2 separate regions of the Homo sapiens genome follow, and region 1 is linked to region 2. Evidence: fine-mapped expression QTL. A gene starts in region 2. The other region holds a variant in brackets. All regions are shown on one strand. Distances are between the middles of the regions.

Region 1 (9,231 bases), 33 kb before region 2:
AAAATTTGTAGGCAGCTTCTGTCTTTGAGCCTGAAAGAGGATCTCCTTGTTTAAAGAGAGAGGTGCCACCATGATTGCAAGTTTCCTGAGGCCTCCCCAGCAGCAGAAGCAACTATGGTTCCTGTACAGCCTGTGGAACTATGAACCAATTAAACCTCTTTTCTTTATAAAAAATAATAAAAATAAAAAAAGAGGTGCTAAAGACTAGCACCAAATTCAGACTTTCTACTTGAGACAATTGAAAGGATAGAAAGAGGATTGAAAAGGGAGATGAGCTGGCATTATTTACAGCATGGAAATTATGCTCTAGTCCATGATCATTTACCATCACATCCCACACTTACAGAAACTCTGAACCAAGCTGACTGTTTTTAAGTTTTTTTCAGTAGCAAAATCTTTCCAAATGAAATCTCACATGAATGCCCAGTATACAAAAAAAAAAAATGAGGCAACATAGAAGCTCCTCTGGTAGAATGGGGACAGAGCGTCCCCATGTCCCAGGCACGATTCCTGAGGTGCCCTGGTAGAAGCTCTGGACCCTCTGATTCCTGTCTGTAGCCAGTGCTGTCCAGCCCTGACATTTTATGAAGCAACAGGAAAGAAACCGAGGTCTTCCCCAATCCTCTCATCCTCTTTCTGCTGTTCACAGCTGCTTCCTTGGGTGCTATTGTCTAGTGTCTTTGGCCCTCGTGCACTGGTCACTCCTCCGGACATGTCACACAGGCTGAGGACATCACAACTCCAGTTGTGACATCCTGGGTCCCAAGCCCAGCCTGTAGACAATGATGAGTCCCTGACACTGTTTCTCTCTCTGGCAAGGCAACCACCACCCCAGGCTGCCTCCTGGTCTAACATGGACAAGGGGCGGAAGCAAAGCCACCGAGGTCACCTCTGCCATGCCTCAGGGCATCCTGAGGCAGCATGGGCAGAGGGACACGTGTGCCTGCCAGTCGGGCCTGCCCACCTGAGGCGTGGCGGGCAAAGCGGGGCTCCTGCCGGCTGATGGGGATGCTGGGCAGGGAGGCCCGGCTGGCCCACTTCCTCAGGATGATGCTGACGTCGTTTCTGCATGGGCCGCTCAGCCTAGTGGGCACAGACAGTGTCCCGCTGCCCCGGAGGGGAAGGAGGCCTGTGGACACAGAGAAAGTCCTAGGACTAGGCAGGTCTGTTTTCCCCTGGCCTCAATGTCCTCCTTTGAAAATGGACCCATGGCTGGCCAAAGTAGCTCATGCCAGTACCCCCAACATGTTGGGAGTCCGAGGTAGGAGGATGGCTTGAGGCCAGGAGTTCAAGACCAGCCTGGGCAACATAGGGAGATGCCCATCTCTACAGAAAATTTAAAAGAAATTAGCCAAGCATGGTAGCACACGTCTGTATTTCCCACTACTTGGGAGGCTGAGGTGGGAGGATCCCTTGAGCCCAAGAGTTTGAGGCTGTGGTGAGCTGTGATTGTGTCACTGCCCTTTAGCCTGGGCCACAGAGTGAGGCTCCATCTCTAAATAAATACATAAATACTAATAAAAATTTTAAAAAAGAAAATGGGCCCATCAGCAGGCTATGAGAGAGTGGACTCAGCTCCCCAGGCCTGAGCAAATCCCACACCAGGCACCCAGTACCTTCCTTCATGAAGGCTCTCTGGGAGCCCAGGCACTGGGAAGTGAGCTCCTGCCCTGTCCTGGGCTCCTCCAGCCTCCGAAGCAGCTCCATCTCCTTCATCTGCTTCAGCTGCATCTTCTCCCGGGCAGACTTGGAGATGGTGACTTGGATCTGGCACAAGGTCAAGGCAAACTCTATTAACCTCCCATTCATTCAATCATCAACATTCAATCATCAAAAATGTTTCTACTGTGTGCCAATTGCTGTCCTGGAAGTGAACAAAAAAGACAAACTCCTTGCACCTTAAGAGCTTTGAAGTGTGGGGGAGAGACAACAAACAGACCAAATGCTGATATCAGGCAGTATGTGCTGAAAGAAAAGTAAGGAGACAGAGATGATAGTGGCTTTTAGCCTAGAAGGTCCCTAGGGACTCCCCGAGGAGGTGAAGCTTAAGTGGAGACAGAAATAAAGGAAGGAGACCAGCCCCACAGATTTCTAGGAGAGAAGTGTTTGAAGCAGAGGGAGTGAGTGCAAAAGCTCTGAGGCCGGGTGTGCTTGGCTGGTTGGGGACAGTCAGGGGGTGGACACTGGCTGAACTCTCTGAGTCAGAGAAGTGACAGGACACAAGATCAGGCAGGGGGCAGGATCCACATCACCCGGGCCAAGGAAAGGACTGGGCTTCTCCTCTGAAGGACACAGGAAGCCGTTTAAGGTTTTGAGCAGAGGAGTGACATGATCTGCCTTCCACTGGTGGGGGCTGTCTCTAAGTGTTGTTTTTTATAATTTTTTATTTTGAAATAGTTTAAGACGCAAGAACAACTCGTAAGTTGTCAAAATAGAACCAAGACTTCCTGTGTTCCCTTCACCCTTCCCCAGTGATAATATCTTCCACATCCACAGAACGTTCTAACTTCCATTTCTCTAAGGCTCATGCCAGCTGCTGCACGGGAAGGGTCTGGAGCTAGCCTCACACTGGAAGCAGGAAGAGTGTTTAGGAGGCAGCTGAACATCCAATCAAGAGGTGGTGGGGCTTGGACGGCGATGGGGATGGTGGGGTGGGCAGATTCTGGACATGCTTCTCAGGTGCAGCTCACTCTCTTCGCTGATATATGAGGTGCGGGGCGAGAGAGGAAGAGAGGAGCCAAGGACGCCCGAGGTGGTTGACCTGAGCCACTGGAAGGCTGGAGTTGAGTGGGCCCCTGGGGAGAGAGGAGGTTTTCTGAGGTGAGCATTCAAGGGTTGAGTTTTAGACACAGTCAGTTGGAAGTATAATTAGGCACTTAAGCAGAGATATTGAGCAGCAGCTAAACATGTTAGTCTGGAGGTCAAGGGAAGGTCTAGGCTGGCGAGGGAGGTGTGGGAGTCCTCAGCATAGAGATGGTACTTAATGTCTGGACTGGATGAGGACCTAGCGGGTCAGTATAAATAGACGAGAGGCCAGAGGGCTGAGCGCTGGGGGAGTTCCAGCATCCAGAGGCCGGGGAGATGAGGAGGAGGCAGCCAAGAAGGGCTGGGAAGGAGCTGCCTTTCACGTAGGCAGGACCAAAAAAGAGCCACCCCTCACCCCTATCCCTGGCTGGAGAATTCAAGGATGAGACACAAGTCGTATCAAAAGCTGCGATGGGGTCAAGGTAGACAAGGACTAACCGTGGCTGCATTTGGGAAGATGAAGGTCATTGGCAACTCCAATGTGGGCAGTTTCAGTGGGGAGTGTGGACTAATGCCTGTCAGGAGTGGACAAAGGAGAGAAGAGAGACACGGCAATCATTTTCTCTTGGTTTTGTTCCGCTTTCTTAAAATGAAAGAGGTAACAGAGAGCTAACATGCTGATAGCAATGATCCTGTTTCAAGGAGAATATTGTTGATGCCAGAGAGGGAACAAGTGTTGGAACTGAAGGATTAGCTGGATTGAGCAGAACAGCAGGAGAAGGTGGTGAGCCAATGGGATGCTTGAAATTGAGACCATGGTGGGGGGACACACTTTAGAATGCCAAGGCCTACGATGTGGCCACAGGAGGGAGCGCAGAAGTGGGGTGGAGGATCAGCTCGTTTCGCTGCACTGAATCATTGTTTGTGTTTCCTGTTCTGTGGTCCTCTCTACAGTGGGAGGGTTGTGGTGCTGATTTAACAGTCACCCAGTCTCTAACAGAGAATATGCACCCAGGAGGCCTTCAAGATATGCTTCTTGACCTGGAATGTTCTGTCTCAAAGAATGAGCACAGGCTCCTCACTACAGTGACTCCCCAAGCTTCACTAAATTCGTTCCAACCAGGGAAGAGACCACCTTCCAAGGTCACCTGAGAAGTGTGAGGTATTCGCCAGTCCCTGGAGCACAGCCCGTGGCTGATCAGCCCTGAGTCAGCTGCCTCTCATTTGCTATCTTGGGTGTTAGTTCAAACCACGC[A/G]GCGCAGTTCACCTAAGGCTTCCTGCTCTCTCCCCACGTCCGGCTTCCTCGTGAGCCCTGTGCAACCTCCCCGTCCTCCTTCCTTCCTCCCTCCTACCCCTTCAGCAACCCTCTGCAGTCTTCCCTGCACCTAGTTCCCCACCCCGCTTCTGACCCCCATCCTTTCTCTTCCTTTCTTCAGCCTTCACCCCAACCCCGTCTGCAGGTTCTGGCCTTTAGTACTTGGGTGGCTGCCTCGGGCTCTCCTTGCTCTGCTCTGTGGCTGGTCCCACTCTTGAATACTTCAGACACTTGCTTGCCTTCCTGCAGCCTGCGGTCCACTCCAGCCCCACTTCCTCCTCCTCCCGCTCCCCAGGTACCTTGGTGCCGATCTCCTTCTGGTCCTCTTCTTTCAGCGGAGGGCAGGCTTCTCTGGCACAGTCAAAGGAGAAGGCTGTCAGCGTGGGAGCAGACTGAGAAAAAGGCAGGGCAGGCTTCTTGGCAGCGGCAGGCCTGTCTCTGATGGGTGAGGCCAAAGGTTTTGGCTCTGAGGGGTTGAGAACAGGGGTGGAGCTGAAGACACCCAGGTCACTGCTGAGCTCACTGACCCTGTGGCTGGCTCAATTCTACTGCTAAGCCCCACACCCTCAATTCTTCCTCAATGGAGCAAGACCTGAGTTAGGTTTACTGTACAGGGCAGCACTGGCAGGCATGAGACAGACTACCTGTGGACCAGCATCACCCTCCATTCGTTCATTCACTGCACACTTTATTCCAAGATAGGTGTGGGATTGGGGAGGCTGGGCGGGAAACAGGGCCAGATGTGTTATCCAGGAGATGTAAGACATTTCCTGAGAATATAAGTAAGTGTATCTGTCCTGGGAGGTACGTACGGCAGGAAAAGAAAAAGCAAAATGGGCCCACCAATCCTTTCATATGACCATGGGCTTGCCTGAAAGCATGACGCAGCAGGAAAGGGCAGAGTTGCCAGGACCAGAGATCTAACACTAGTCCAGTCTCATTTCACAGACGGAAAAGCTGAGAGCCAGTGTGATGGTTAATGTTAGGTGCCATCTGGATTGGATGCTTACATAGCTGGTCAAGTATTGTTTCTGGGTGTGTCTGTGAAGGAGCTGCCAGAGGAGATCGACCTTTGAGTCAGTGGACTGGGAGAGGAGGACCCATCCTCAGTGTGGGTGGGCACCATCCAATCAGCTGCTAGCTGCCATCGCAGCTAGAACTAAGCAGGTGGAAGAAGGTGGGATCACCTTGCTTGCCGGGTCTTCTGGCTGCCTGCTTTCTCCCCTGCTGGACGCTTCCTTCTACTCCTCCTGCCCTTAAACATCAGACTCCAGGTTCTTTGGCCTTTGGACTCTGAGACTTGCACCAGTGGCTTGCCAGGGGCTCTCGGACTTTTGGTCACAGACTGAAGGCTGCACTGTTGGCGTCCCTGGTTTGAGGCTTTCGAACTTGGACTGAGCCACTACCAGCCTCTCTCTTCCCCAGCTTGCAGATGGCCGCCTGTGGGACTTCACCTTGTAATCGTGTGAGCCAATTCTCCCTAATAAACTCCTTTATATACAGACATATATCCTACTAGTTCTGTCCCTCTGGAGAACCCTGACTAATACAGCCAGTAACCTTCGAATGCTCTTGGGATGGATAAAATACCCGTTCACTTCCACTTGATGGCATCAAATCCACAGTATTGCTTTGTCATTCATATCTTCCCCATCAGCGGATTTTAAAGGTACATTTCTCATTATGAAGGCAGGGCTCAAACAGGTTCATTCATTTTCTGCCACCCACAGGGTTTGGAGCTCACTGTCCTTGGGTGAACCTGCAAGTCAGGGGTCTGCTGAGATGGGGCCACCAGCTGAGGCTGCCTGAGGCTGGAAAAGGCATCTTACCTCTGGGGCCCGTGCAGAGCTCCCAGGTCACCCAGGTCCTCTGCCCAGGCCATGTCTTCTGCAAAGGATTCCTCTGCTTGGTGCAGGGAGAAGGATCAAGGGCCAAGGGGGAAGAGGGGCTTTGAAGCCTCATCTGCCCAGAGGTAAGAGGCAGAGCAGAGGGCACATGTGGTAGGCACCACCTGGCCAGGGCAAGGACTGCAGGAATGCCACAGATGTGAGGAAGCCCCCAGCTTCAGACAAGACCCTGTGAGCCCCTACCATGTGCTAGGCATGTTGCACACAGAGGGCAGTGTCAGCCCAGTTGCCAGCTGGAGGGCAGAGAGCCCTTTAAGGACTTAACTATTTTTTATGTCACTTCTTCACCTCCACCCCAAAGGGATGCCCTGGAAAGCCCTGTCTGAGCAGCCTGCCCCTGCCACAGGTCCCTGGTGACCTGGTTCTCAAGCAGCAAGCTGGAGAGCCAGGGGAGGAAGTGGTTACTGACTGGGGTCTCCTGGCCCAACCCCCACACCAGCGTCCTCCGGGTTAGCTCTTAAGGTCACTCAGGGTGCCGGTGCATTTCGCCACAGACTGCCTGAGCTCACCCTGCTGCAGCCTGGCCCGGGAGCAGGGGAGAAGCAGCTGCCGCAGAGGTTTCTTGTGCCAGGTCCAGCTTTGTGTCTTGATCCCAGGGCCTCTTGGGCAACAGCCACCCCCCTTCGCCAACTGCCCCACCAGCTGAGCTGATTAGCAGAGTGACCTGCCAGGAAGCTGGTCCTGGGGAGGCCACCCCTCCTGCCGGGCAGTAGAGCGGCTGCCTCCAACTCCTCCCCACCCTGGCCTGGGTTCGGGGTGTTCTGCTCCCCAACCCTGCAGCAGAGGCTCAGCTTCCATCCACCCGTCCCACCTCCCCATAGAGTTCAATCCAGGAAGGATCCCTCCTCCCTCTTTAAAGGCCTCCTACCCTGCCCTGTCCCCTCTCCTCGCCTCAATCCTGTGCTGGCCCTATATCCTGACAGCTAAAGCTCCTGGGGCCAGCTGGCTGAGGTTTGTGGGCTCTGGTTTACCCTCTCATTCTCTAGGTGAGGAATACTCTCTCTACTTGCTTAACACACCGCAAGGGGCAGCTGCTTGATGTGTCAAGACCCCAGCTTTGGAGCCGTGGAAACTTGGCTGCAAGCCTGATGGGGCTCAGCGACCAGGGAGGACATCCTGCTCACAGAGCCTTCGTGTGCCAGCTCGTCTGTCACACACGGCCAGAATTGTCTCTCTTATCGAGGCCGTGGCAAGCTGCACAAGCTGGTGTACGTCATCACACCTGACGTACCAGAGCAGGTGTCAATAAATGTCACTTCTCTTCCACACCTCGCCCGGGCCCGCTGCCACCCTCCGGTTAGACCTCCGGTGACTTCAGCTTCCTGCTGTGAAATGAAGGGCCCAGACACAAGAGCTCTCAGATCTCCTCTGGCCCTAATTCTGTTTCCCTGACCCAGCCCAGGAATGTAGAGAGTCAAATAACAAAGGGAGGTGTGCATGGAAGATACGTACCCAGAGATGCAGGGGTCTTCTCCCGAGGCCCACTCCCCCGAGCCAATCTTAAAAGAACGGGGGAGAGAAAAGCATCATGAGGGATGGCCAGCCAGAGACACTGCTGGGGGAGCCCAGGGTGGCTCCAGGATGGGGCAATGGCCGAGATGGGGGACAGAGGGGACGGCACTGTTATCCCTGCAGAGGCTCTTGGCCCAGGATTCAAGCTGCAGGAGATACAGCTCCCTCTGCAAACACAAGGGCAGGCTGACCACCAGGCCAGGTTCAGCCCCATTTCCTGGCAGTGCAGCTCGCGCATTCCCCAGGAGGCTGACACCCACACAGAAACTGCTGACTTAAAGGAAGCCCCCACCCTCCCGCTGTGCTGCTTGGGCCTGTGGAGTTGACAGCAGCTGCAGTAAACAAGGGTAAACTGCCTCCCAGCTTAGACAGCACTGAGCTCAAGTTCTCCAAGCTGCCCCAACCCCGTGAGAGCTCAGTGACCCCTAAATAGTCCCACTCGTGATTGTAATCCCCATCCCAGGGCCTGGGGGGCGGAGCTGATCCCCTTTGCTGTGGCAGGAAGTCACCACTGTTTTGTACCAGAAGCTCAATCCCAATTACCCACAGGAGGGGGAAGACAGTGGCATCCCTGGCACTGGTTTTAATTGTAATTTCTTAAGTTGGAAGCACCATTTACTTATTCAACAGATATTTACTGAAGACCTACTATGTGTCAAGCACTATTCTAGACACTGGGAATGGAGCATCAATAAGACATGACACTCCCCGCCCTCCGGGAGCTCAGGTTCCCATGGAGACCAGCCCTGCAGCGTCCTACATGGCTTTCCCTTCTCGGTGGACATCAGGACCCACTGGGGGGCTGACAGAGTAACAAGCCACAGCAACAGGTCAGGAACACAATATCCCACACACTGGCCTCAGAGGATCACAGTCCAGGCCGGGCTGCAGGAGGGGCGGTAGGACAGCCCCCCTCAGTGCCTGCCTGGATGCAGGGGAACCCTGATCCTTGGGGACTGTGGAGGTCAGGGGAGTCCACAGGAGGAGCGGAGCTTCAACCTGGGCGTAGATCAGCCGGGATTCGCCATTGCTCCCAGGGCCAGGCCCAGCCTCTTGGGTCTGGACCCACAGGGAGGGATCGTGTGGGCTGGAGATAGTAAGCGAATGCTCCAGGGCACCCCTGACCTGGGGAGCTCGCCCACTAGGCCTTTGCCATTGTAACCCACCACTGCTTAACCACTGCCCAACGGCACTAAGAGGATTGGAGGCGGGCGGGGAGGGGAAGTGGAGCATCAAAGTCCACACAGTTGCCCTTGGCTTCTATGAGCTCATGGAGGTCCCAGGCTGCCTGAGGTGAGCACAGGATGCCAAAAACCCCAATGCTTATGCCTCGGCTTTGCCCCTGGGGCCCTGAGCTGCAGCCTCCCCCGCTCTGCGCCCCCCCAACACACACACACACACACACACACACACCTGCTCTGAGCAAGGGATTTGGCCTCAGAGGACTTGGCGCAGCTTCTCTTAAGCTGTGGACCCTGGGGAAGCCTCTTGCCCTCCCCTTCTCTAGCGACCCCACAGCAGAAAGGACTGAGGCCAAGACAGGCCATGCCGATCAGGGCCCCTGCCTTCCTGCACGTGGCAGCCCCGCCCCACCCTGTGCGAACCTCACAGAAAACCCACCACCGCTCAGGCTCCTCCGCAGGCCCCAAGGAGGTGGGTGGAGCAGGAGCAGCAAAGCCCTGTTTCCAGCAAGAGCCCCTCCCGGCTCCAACCCAAACGTCTAAGCATGTCCAAGAGTGGCCTCAGCACTGT
Region 2 (9,231 bases):
GAACCTGCCCCCACCTTTGTGTATCGTGTTGGTGCAAATATAAATTAGAGATTAATCAGAACTTGGTCTAGTAATTTAACAGAATTTCCCATGCCTTTCTTCTGTTACTAAATTTCAAGCTGGAAGGGGCCTTGGAGGTCAGCTAGTTTCCTCCCTTGTAAATGAGGGGTTAATGAGCCGAGATCACACCATTGCACTCCAGCCTGGGCAACAAGAGCAAAACTCCGACTTAAAACAAAAACAAAAACAAAACAAAAAAATGAAAAGCAAAACAAAAAAAAAACCCCAGCAATTTAGTTCTGGAGGCTGGGAAGTCCAAGATCAAGGTGCCAGCTGATTCCACTCCTGGTGAGGACTCACTTCCTGGATTGCAGGTAGCTGTCTTCCCTTTGTCCTCACATGGCAGAGAGAGAGACAGAGAGCAAGCTCTCTGGTCTCTTCTTCTAAGGGCACTAACCCATCATGAGACAACCACCCTCACGACCTCATCTGAATCTAATTACCTCCCGAAGGCCCCACCTCCTAATACCAACACATGGGGGGTTAGGCTTTAACATTTGCATTTGTGGGACGCATGCATTCAGTCTATAACACCTACATAAGGCCATCAGGAGCCAATACCTATCCCAGGGCCCATACCCCTATAGGCATCACACTGGCTGCCAGCTGGCAAGGCCTTCAGCAGGACTGGGAGGAAAGCTTCCTTTTCCAGCTTCCCATCAAGGCCTCCCCAAAATGGTCACCTTGCCACTACAGTGCCTGGTCAGAGCCTGTGTAGTGTGCTCCCAAGGATTAAGGTTTTGGGAGGGGTAGGATACCACCGCATCAATCCTGCCTGAAATCACACAGCCATTGGCTGGGGCTTGGAAGTCTTCTGCTGGCCCTGAGATTTCCACCATCAAGGTAAGAGTTATCCTAGCACTTGATCATAGTCCTGGAGTCTCGAATGAAAAATGGCTTGGTCCACTGCCCCAGGAATGCCTTCTGCAGGGTTTGGCTGATCAGTTGAGGATTCCTGCCCAGTAGCAGGAGCTTGAATCTTCAAACTGTAGACTGTAAACAAGCACATGTACTCAGAGGATCAGAAGGGACTAGGAAGCAAGAAAGCATCTTGTCCAAAGTCTCAGCAAAGGTGTATTGGCATGACTCTAGCATCTGAATGTCTGTCACACCCCAGGAAAGGGCTCTTGGCAAAGGCCTCCCTGCAAGAAGCTCAGAAGACTTCAGACCCCGGCCCTGTCCCTTCCCAATGGCCCATGAGAAAGCCGACTTTCTTGAATAGGAGCCAGAGTTTTGTGTGTGCCTCTCCAGGACATACACCAGGTTTTGCCTGGGAAATATAAATGGCTTCTGTGGAGGGACATTTTTTTTTCTGTCTTTGTTTTGTTGAAGAGAAATCCAAGACCCAGGAAGGGATGTGAGTTGGGCCAAGAACCAGAGGTTTTAAAACACGAAATGGGAAACTCAGACTTCCAGACAGTGGCTCTGGAGCCTGGGTCTGTAATTCAAACACTAAGAAGTATGTGGAATAGTGATTGGTTCTCCAAGAAGAAGAATGGAGGAGAGGGATGGAGGAGTGGGGAGGGCAGAGAGAAAAATGGGGCTCAAAAGCCTGAGCACCATGAGGGGCTGAGATCACAGAGAGCAGAGGAAGGGAGGCACCCAACAGAGGAGGAAAGAGGTGAGGAAGAATGGCTGGGGGCAGATGCTCAACCCCCTGGTAATCAAGAAAATGCAAATGAGATGCTACCACCATCCCACAAAGATGGGCAAAAATTGAGATGGGCGGCAATGCCAAGTGCTAGTGAGAGCACAGAGCAATGGGAGCACTCATGACAGCTGGCAGGTGAGATGCAAATGGGCACAAACCCTTGGGAAAGTGGTCTGGCTTTACCTGATAAAGCTAAAAATGCACAAACCTAATGTTCAGCAATTCCACTCCTAGGAACCCACCCTTGAGAAAGTCTTGCACAGGTGATCCAGGAAAGGAGCTCGAGAGTGTCCAGAGCAGTGCCATGGATAATGGCCAAAATCTGGAAAAAATCTAAATGTCCAACAGGAAAATGAAGGACTAAATCATGGTGCACTCACAACATAGAATATTACAGAGCAATGAAACAAACGACTGCCCCACTCAACACTATGGACGATGCCACAGCGTAATGTTTAGTGAAAGAAGACAGACCCAAGAGACCACACAGGGTATGCCCCTACTTCTATAAAGTTCAAAGAAAGACAAAATTACATCGAGTGTTTAGAAATGCATACATAGGCCCAGCGTGGTGGCTCACACCTGTGATCCCAGCACTTTGGGAGGCCAAGGCAGGCATATCACCTGAGCCAGGAATTCGAGACCAGGCTGAGCAACATGGAAAAAACCCATCTCTACAAAAAAAAAAAAAAAAAAAAAAAAAAAATATATATATATATATATATATTTATATATACACACACACAAAGATTAGCCGGGCATGGTGGTGTGCACCTGTACACCCAGCTACTTGGGAAGCTGAGGTGGGAGGAACACTTGAGCCTAGGAGGCAGAGGTTGCAGTGAGCTGAGATCATGCCACTGTACTCCCACCTGGGGGACAGAGTGAAACCTTGTCTCAAAAAATGAAGCGAAATTAAATTAAAATAAAAATGCAGACATAGATGGAAAACTTGATAGAAAATCAAGGAAAAATTAGTAGCATGATTAACCCTAAGGGGAAGGGAGGCAGCTGTGATAAGGACAGGGCCCACGGGGGTGGGTTCTGGGAGGCGGCCAGTTTTTCTGTTTCTTGGCCTGGGAGGTGGCTACATGGACATTCACTTTATAATTATTCCTCACACTGCATGCATTTTATGCATTCTTCTGTCTGCAATAATAAACTTCCAGCCTCTGTGCTAGTGAGCAGAGTCTGGTGCCTCTGAGGTAGCCGTGGGGTCAATGGGAGGATGCGCTGCCCTCAGAGGCAGGTCTCTCCAGAGCTCAGGTTGACATCTCCCCATCCCTTGCCCCCAACTACCTCCCCCTTTCTTCAAATCTGTTAGTCTCAGGCTCCATGGGCTGAAACTGAGCCAGTCCTGGGAGCCAGCCTGTGGCTAGAAGGCTGCAGGGCCGTCTCCTGCAGGGCATTGGTGAGAAGAGCGAGGGACTGCCCAGTTCAGGATAGAAGCGATTATGGGCCCCTCACACCACTTCCTGGGGCCAGGCACCAATGCCCTGTGGCCTGCCTCAGTGATGCTCCGACAGAGTACGGGCCCCAGTCCCTCCCCTCCCAGCGCTCCTGAGGAAATGGCAGCCCTCTGAGGTCCCCCGCCAGCACCAGCCCTTGTCCTGGAGAAGTGACTGGCAAAACCTTAGTTTCAGGAGACTGAAATGTGCTCCAGAAAGGAACATGCCAATCTCCACCTAACAACAGCATCAACAACAAACAGTAACTTCCATTCTGCGCATGGGCTAACGTGCCAGCTGCCCTCCTGACTGTCTCCATGCTCACAGACAGCACCAAGGGGGCTTTTTTTAAACCCTTCTTCACAGATGAGAAACCTGAGGCTCAGAGAGGCAAAGAGCTCAAGTCCACACAGCCAGAAAGAGGGGGGGTTAGAATTCAAACCCAGAGCAGAGCCCCTCCAAGGCCTATGCTCTCACGGGGTGCCCCAGCACCCCTAAGCACGGGTGCCATCCCCACAGCATGCCCCCACCCTTCCCGGCACCATCGCCCACAGCACCCCAGGGAGCTGTTGCCCTGTGAAGGGTTCACCCTGAGGTAGAGAGCACTGCCCACAGAGGCCATGACTCGGGGAAGGGGTCAGCCCAGGCCAGCCCCTCCTTCCTTGGCTCCCAGTGCTCAGAGAACAGTGAGTCCAACCTCCTCCCCTAGAGCTGCCACATGAAGGCCCAGAAAGGGTCAGAGACATCCCCACGGTCACACAGCCTCCAAGTCACAGCAGGATGCTTTTTCTTTCTCTGTGTGTTTGTGCTTGCTCCAGTTCAGGTCTTTATCCCTCCCTCCAGGGACTTCAGGGGTCCTGACCCAGCCTCCCATTCACCACCTACAATAGATGGCTTGGTGGACCTATCGTCTCTCACCTCTCTGTCCAGAGGCCAAACCCCTGTCACTGGAGGAATCCAGGGTCCTTGGTCTCTATAGAGACGTTGATGCTCATGGGCCCAGGGAGGCAAGGACGGGGCAGCCCCAGGCCTGGCCCACCCTGGCCCCCACCAGCCACACAGTCCTGGGCCGCAGCCTCCTGTCTGAGCAGGGGCTGGGTGGCCACGAGCTCCACTGCTGGCGTGCTCCAGCTCTCAGCAAAGCTCTCCTTGAATAAACAAGGCTGCATAGCAACCACTCGCTGAAGGAGCCCATAGCTCCCTGCGCGGGGGAGAGACCGAGCCGAGAGATTTTCCCCTTGGTCTCATTGCCTCTGTGGCTCACCGGAGCACAGGCACTACCAAGTGGCCGACCTGTCCTCTAGGGTCATGGACACCACAGAAAGAGAGAGCACTGGGCCCCCCTGCCTGGTGACTGCAGCCAGGAAGTGCATAGCTGGCTTGGTGCAGGGATGTTGTTGGTAGAACTCCTGGTTTTGCTCACATGGCCTCTGGGCTCAATCTGCTTCTGTTTACTAACTCTCCTAGAGGCAGAAAGACAGAGTGAGCATCCAGGCCTTGGCAGCAGGCAGCTGGGTTTGAATCCTGATCCTGCTACTTCCAGCTGTGTGCCCTCTGGTCAGAACTTTACCTTTCTTGACCTCAGTTTCCTCATCTATAAAATGGGTACACCAATAGTACTGACTTGATAGGGTTGCTGTAAGGATTTCAAAGGTGCATGTAACAGCTTGTAATTTTGTCTAGCACTTGGTAGGCTCTCCATCACTTCCCCAGAAATCCTTGCAGAGCAGAAAGCCTGTGGCCTTCGTCCCAACCAGATTTCTCCACCTTAACTTTTGGAAAATGTGAATCCTAGCAGCCCATGTGTACTTTCTCACTGAACCCAGGCTCTTGGGCGGAAATCCCAGGCTGGCATCCTCTCTCTGGAATGACAGCCAGTCCCACTCCTCATGCTACCCCCTTCTAGCCCTCACCATCCAGGGGGCACACAGTGGAAGCCAAGGACTCAATTTGTATGCAGGCTTGCAAACAGCCACTCGCCCAAAGATACTATGAATTTTCCCAGGCAGCTCCTCCCCATATTCTGTACAAAGGAATCAGCAGGTGTGTGGAACACACAGGGATGGCTGGTGGGAGGCCAACTACACCCCACGAGGCCTGGGCTGCTGAAATGCTTGCACACGGGGTAGCTCCTTCCTGGGACTCTCTCCTCTTCCCTGAGATGGCCAGGGAGGGCAGGCCTTGGGAGTAGCTGCTGTCATTTACCAAGATCCAGGAGGGAGCAAGGAGGGCCAGCCAATTATGACTGAGAACAAGGTCCCTCTGGGGCAGGTGCTGGCCCCAAGCCAGAGGTCACAGCTGACAAGGCGAACGGAACTCCTGAACTCCCTGTAGCAGAGGCCCAGAAAGGAGACTCTTCCTCCAAACCAGGAACAGTGGCTGTGCGGATTCCCCTTGGGAGACAGGTATGAAGATGCCCAGGTGGGGAAAGAGAGGCCTGGCAAGTTAAGCCCTTGCCCCAAGCCACACAGCTTGTGAGTGAGAGCGACTCAACCATGGGAACCCAGGGCGGGGACGTGACAAGGCAGGTTTTGGTGTCCCTCAGCTCTGGCAGGGAGATGGTGTGTGTGCAGCTCCCCCAAAGCCCATCTGCATGTCGCTGCTTGAGTCGGAGCTTCTAGAACACAGATCCGATGGCCGTGCCCTGCTGGACACCCCTCATGGCCCCTGCTGTCCTTGGTGTAAGGGCCAGACTTAGCACCATGGCTGCCAAGCCCCTCTAATCAGGCCCCACTGCATCCTCCTTCAGCTCCTGGGCTCTCCACACTCTGCCTCCACTGGATGGCCGAGCATTATGTGTTCCCAAGGTGGGCTGGCCATGCTCTGTGCCAAATGCTAGAGACACAGGAGGCAGCACAGCCTGCCCTCAGGAGCTGAGTGATGGAGAGAGGCCCCAGCAGGTAACCCCCTGCTTGTTCCTGTGTTACCTGCAATAAGGGAGGATGGATAACACAGCACAGCCCTTAAGAACCAGGGCTCTGAAGCCCCTGGATTCCAGACTGGATTCTGATCCCAGCAATGACATCTTAGGCAAGAAACAAACTCTCTGAGTCTTGGTTCTTTCATATGCCTAGCAGGAAGACTGCAGATCCTCCCTCCCTGGGGTGGCTCCAGTGACCCTCAGTGTGCCCGCCAGGCACAGAGCACGCACTCACCCTCACTGTGACCATGGACAGAGAGCGAATCCCAGGGGCAGTGAGGTGTGACATCCACATGAAATCCCCGAGGTAAGGAGCAGGCCAGTCGAGGAGCATGGGTGGAAACCGCTGAGGCAAACACAACCTGAGCCCCGGGCCTCTGGGGGAGCCAGGAGCTGCCTGGAAGGATTGGGGCACTCCAGGTGGGGAGGGCAGCCAGGCTGCCACCTGGAAGCTCTCTGGAACTCCCCTGAAGAGACCTCAGAAAGAAAGGGACACGAATCCAGCCCTCAGTCATTTGTTGTGACTTCTTTTCTCATTCTAAAAAAATATTTTCATACTTAATTTTGTTTTCTTTCTTAAAGAAGCCCCCAAATTGTTTAAGCCTCGAGTCTCACAAAGCCTGTATCGACCCCTGGTGGAAGGGCGGCCAGACCCTCGGAAGAGGGTCAACAGCTATGAAGGAAACCAGATGTCACCTGTCTCCTCCAGTGCCCAGTGTTCCCAGTCATTGCCCCGACTCTCCTGGGTGTGCTCACACTGGCCTGCTCCCACCCCCAGAACCGATGAACAAATACTTGATGTGAATGAATTAAACTGACTCACAATACAGAATCACAAGCTGGGAAGAGGGCTCTTGAAAGTACCAAATAAGTAGCCCCCTCCACATCCACAGGGGATAGCCCCCATCTACCCCAGAAATCTACTCAAGATTTCAGAAACCAACATTCTATAACTTTCCATGCTGATGGATTTGGTCAGTGGAAGACTACTAAATTCTGATCCTGTTCCCTCAGTAAAAATGTCACCAAGAGTCCTCTTGGCCCTTGTTGATTTGTAAAGTGAACAAAGCTGTTTCTATGTCTAGCAACAAGAAGGACTAGATACCCTGAACACACTTCCCATTGCAAATGACCTGAGCATCCTATATCCAAATAGTCTCCTGAACACGTAGCTGGGCTATTAGCAGGGACTTCACTGAGGGGTCTTCTCCCCTTGCTCTGGGATGTAGCTGTCATGCTCCTCTCCTCTCCTGGCCTTTGTTCATGCTGTTCCCTCCACCCCAAAAGCCTTTCCCATATCCCTTCCTACCCCTTACTTATACCCATCTCCGGCCGGGCACGGTGGCTCACGCCTGTCATCCCAGCACTTTAGGAGGCCAAAGCAGGCAGATCACCTGAGGCCAGGGGTTCGAGACCAGCCTGGGCAACATGGTAAAACCCCGTCTCTACCAAAAATACAAAAATTAGCTGGGCATGGTGGCGCATGCCTGTAATCTCAGCTACTCAGGAGGCTGAGACAGGAGAATTGCTTGAGCCCAGGAGGCAGAAGTTGCAATGAGTCGAGATTGTGCCACTGCACTCCAGCCTGGATGACAGAATGAGACTCCATCTCAAAACAAAAACAACCAAAAAAAAAACACTTTATACCTATCTCCCTTGGCCAATTCCCACCCACGTGCTCCCAAGGGGAGTCCTTACTGACTCTCTAGAAAAGAGGTGCCTCTCATCTGCCTTTCTAGGGCCAGCACTTCCCTATCACAGCACCACTCATCCGCTGACTGTAACTGCCCGCCCCTCTCCTGGCCCACCAGCCAGCCACACAGACCTAGACTGTGAGCTCCTTGGGGGCAGGATTCATGCCTTATATCTCTGGAACCAGCGCCAGCCAGGTTCCACATGGGTGTTGAGAGAGCGACACCAACCTGACTGCACGTGGGGAGAGGAAGTGGCTGGCGGCATAAGAAGCCCCCGCCCCTGCAACATTCACCGCTTCTTCCAGGACCAGACCTGAGATCCAAGCTGCAGACCAGAGTCTCAGCCCCATACATTGTATGGCAGGGAACAGGTAGGGGGAGTTCTGACCCCCTGGGCTGGTGTTGCCCCCTTATAAACCAGGACCATCCCAGGCCTAGCTGGAGGTCAGATCCCAGGGAGCATGGGGAGCAAGGGCCCCTGGTAGGGACCCTAGGAGGTGGTATGCTCAGGCGCCTCCCCCATCTCTGTCTCAGGTACCCATCCCTCAGGATAAGGTGCCCCCAGGCTAAAGATGGTTAGCATAGGGCATGGCCAAGGGTTCCAGGCAAGTGGACAGAGAGTTGGTTCCAGTCCTGACTTTGTCACCATTACTGTGTGCCCTCCAACAAGTCCCTGCCCTCCTTGGGCTTCCAAACTGTCATTTGTGATCAGACACTGGGTGACCTCCTGGTCCCTTAGAGCCCTGATGCCCTGTGTCCTGGGCCCTGGCCCAGGCTGAGGAGAAAGGCTGGAAGCCCCCCATCCCTTCACAGGCCACGCCCCCCCAGGTAGAAAAGCGGATAATGGAGGCAAGCTGGCACTGCCTCCAGACTGACACTGTGCTGGCTTATCTCCCAAAATACCACTGCCCCACCCCCTCCAAGGCCAGCCCCAGCCTGGAGAGCCTGAAAGGCCCTGTCAGTACCACAGGCTGGGTGGGGGTGCTCAGACACTGCCAAGGACACAGAACAGGCCCCTCCCAACCAGCACCTGCCACTGGGCTGACGTGTTCCCTGGGAAGTTCCTGGGAAACTCTAGAATAATGTATGCAACCTAAGCACAGGATCAGAGAGAGGACTAGGCCAAGCCCCTCTTATCGCAGATGATGGAGTCACACAGGAATTCAGTGGTAATGACAGGATGGGGACTAACGCCTTCTGGTTATGCTGCTTCTGGCCCCAGCTGCCCTTCAGGGCTTCTCCCAACAGAAGCCAACCCCTCATCTCACATGGGGTGTGCCTCTCCCTCCTTTCTCCCCATTCCACAAAAGGACGTGTCAGAGAAGAGCAGCTCCCTGCCCCACAGCCACAGGAAAGCTCGAGAGATGGAGGGCAGGGGGAGGGGAGGAGTTAATAGGTGAGTAAATAACTCCAGAAGCTAATGGCAAAAAAGAATTTGATGGGTTTTTGTTGTTGTTG

Which allele goes with the higher level. Alleles are on the strand shown, and positions count from the first base shown. SD is a standard deviation of normalised expression in the study named.
In carriers of allele G in region 1, the expression in skeletal muscle of the gene that starts at base 4,318 in region 2 tends to be higher than with A alone (small effect, 0.22 SD a copy in GTEx).

What was found. PIP is the estimated chance that this variant, and not a neighbour inherited with it, causes the effect.
Region 1: its variant is fine-mapped to the expression of TOGARAM2 in skeletal muscle (GTEx, PIP 0.98).

The regions. Positions count from the first base shown.
Region 1 is chr2:29,009,690-29,018,920 of GRCh38, reverse strand. TOGARAM2 (TOG array regulator of axonemal microtubules 2) reads right to left here. Exons shown (of 20, transcript NM_199280.4): 7 at 7,420-7,466; 8 at 4,360-4,526; 9 at 1,617-1,767; 10 at 965-1,129. Among named protein-coding and RNA genes, the nearest start is that of TOGARAM2, 33 kb to the right of the region's middle. RefSeq lists enhancers at 3,554-3,603, 7,630-7,759. The variant A/G (reference allele first, on the strand shown) is at 4,001.
Region 2 is chr2:28,976,385-28,985,615 of GRCh38, reverse strand. TOGARAM2 (TOG array regulator of axonemal microtubules 2) reads right to left here and starts at 4,318. Exons shown (of 20, transcript NM_199280.4): 1 at 4,078-4,318.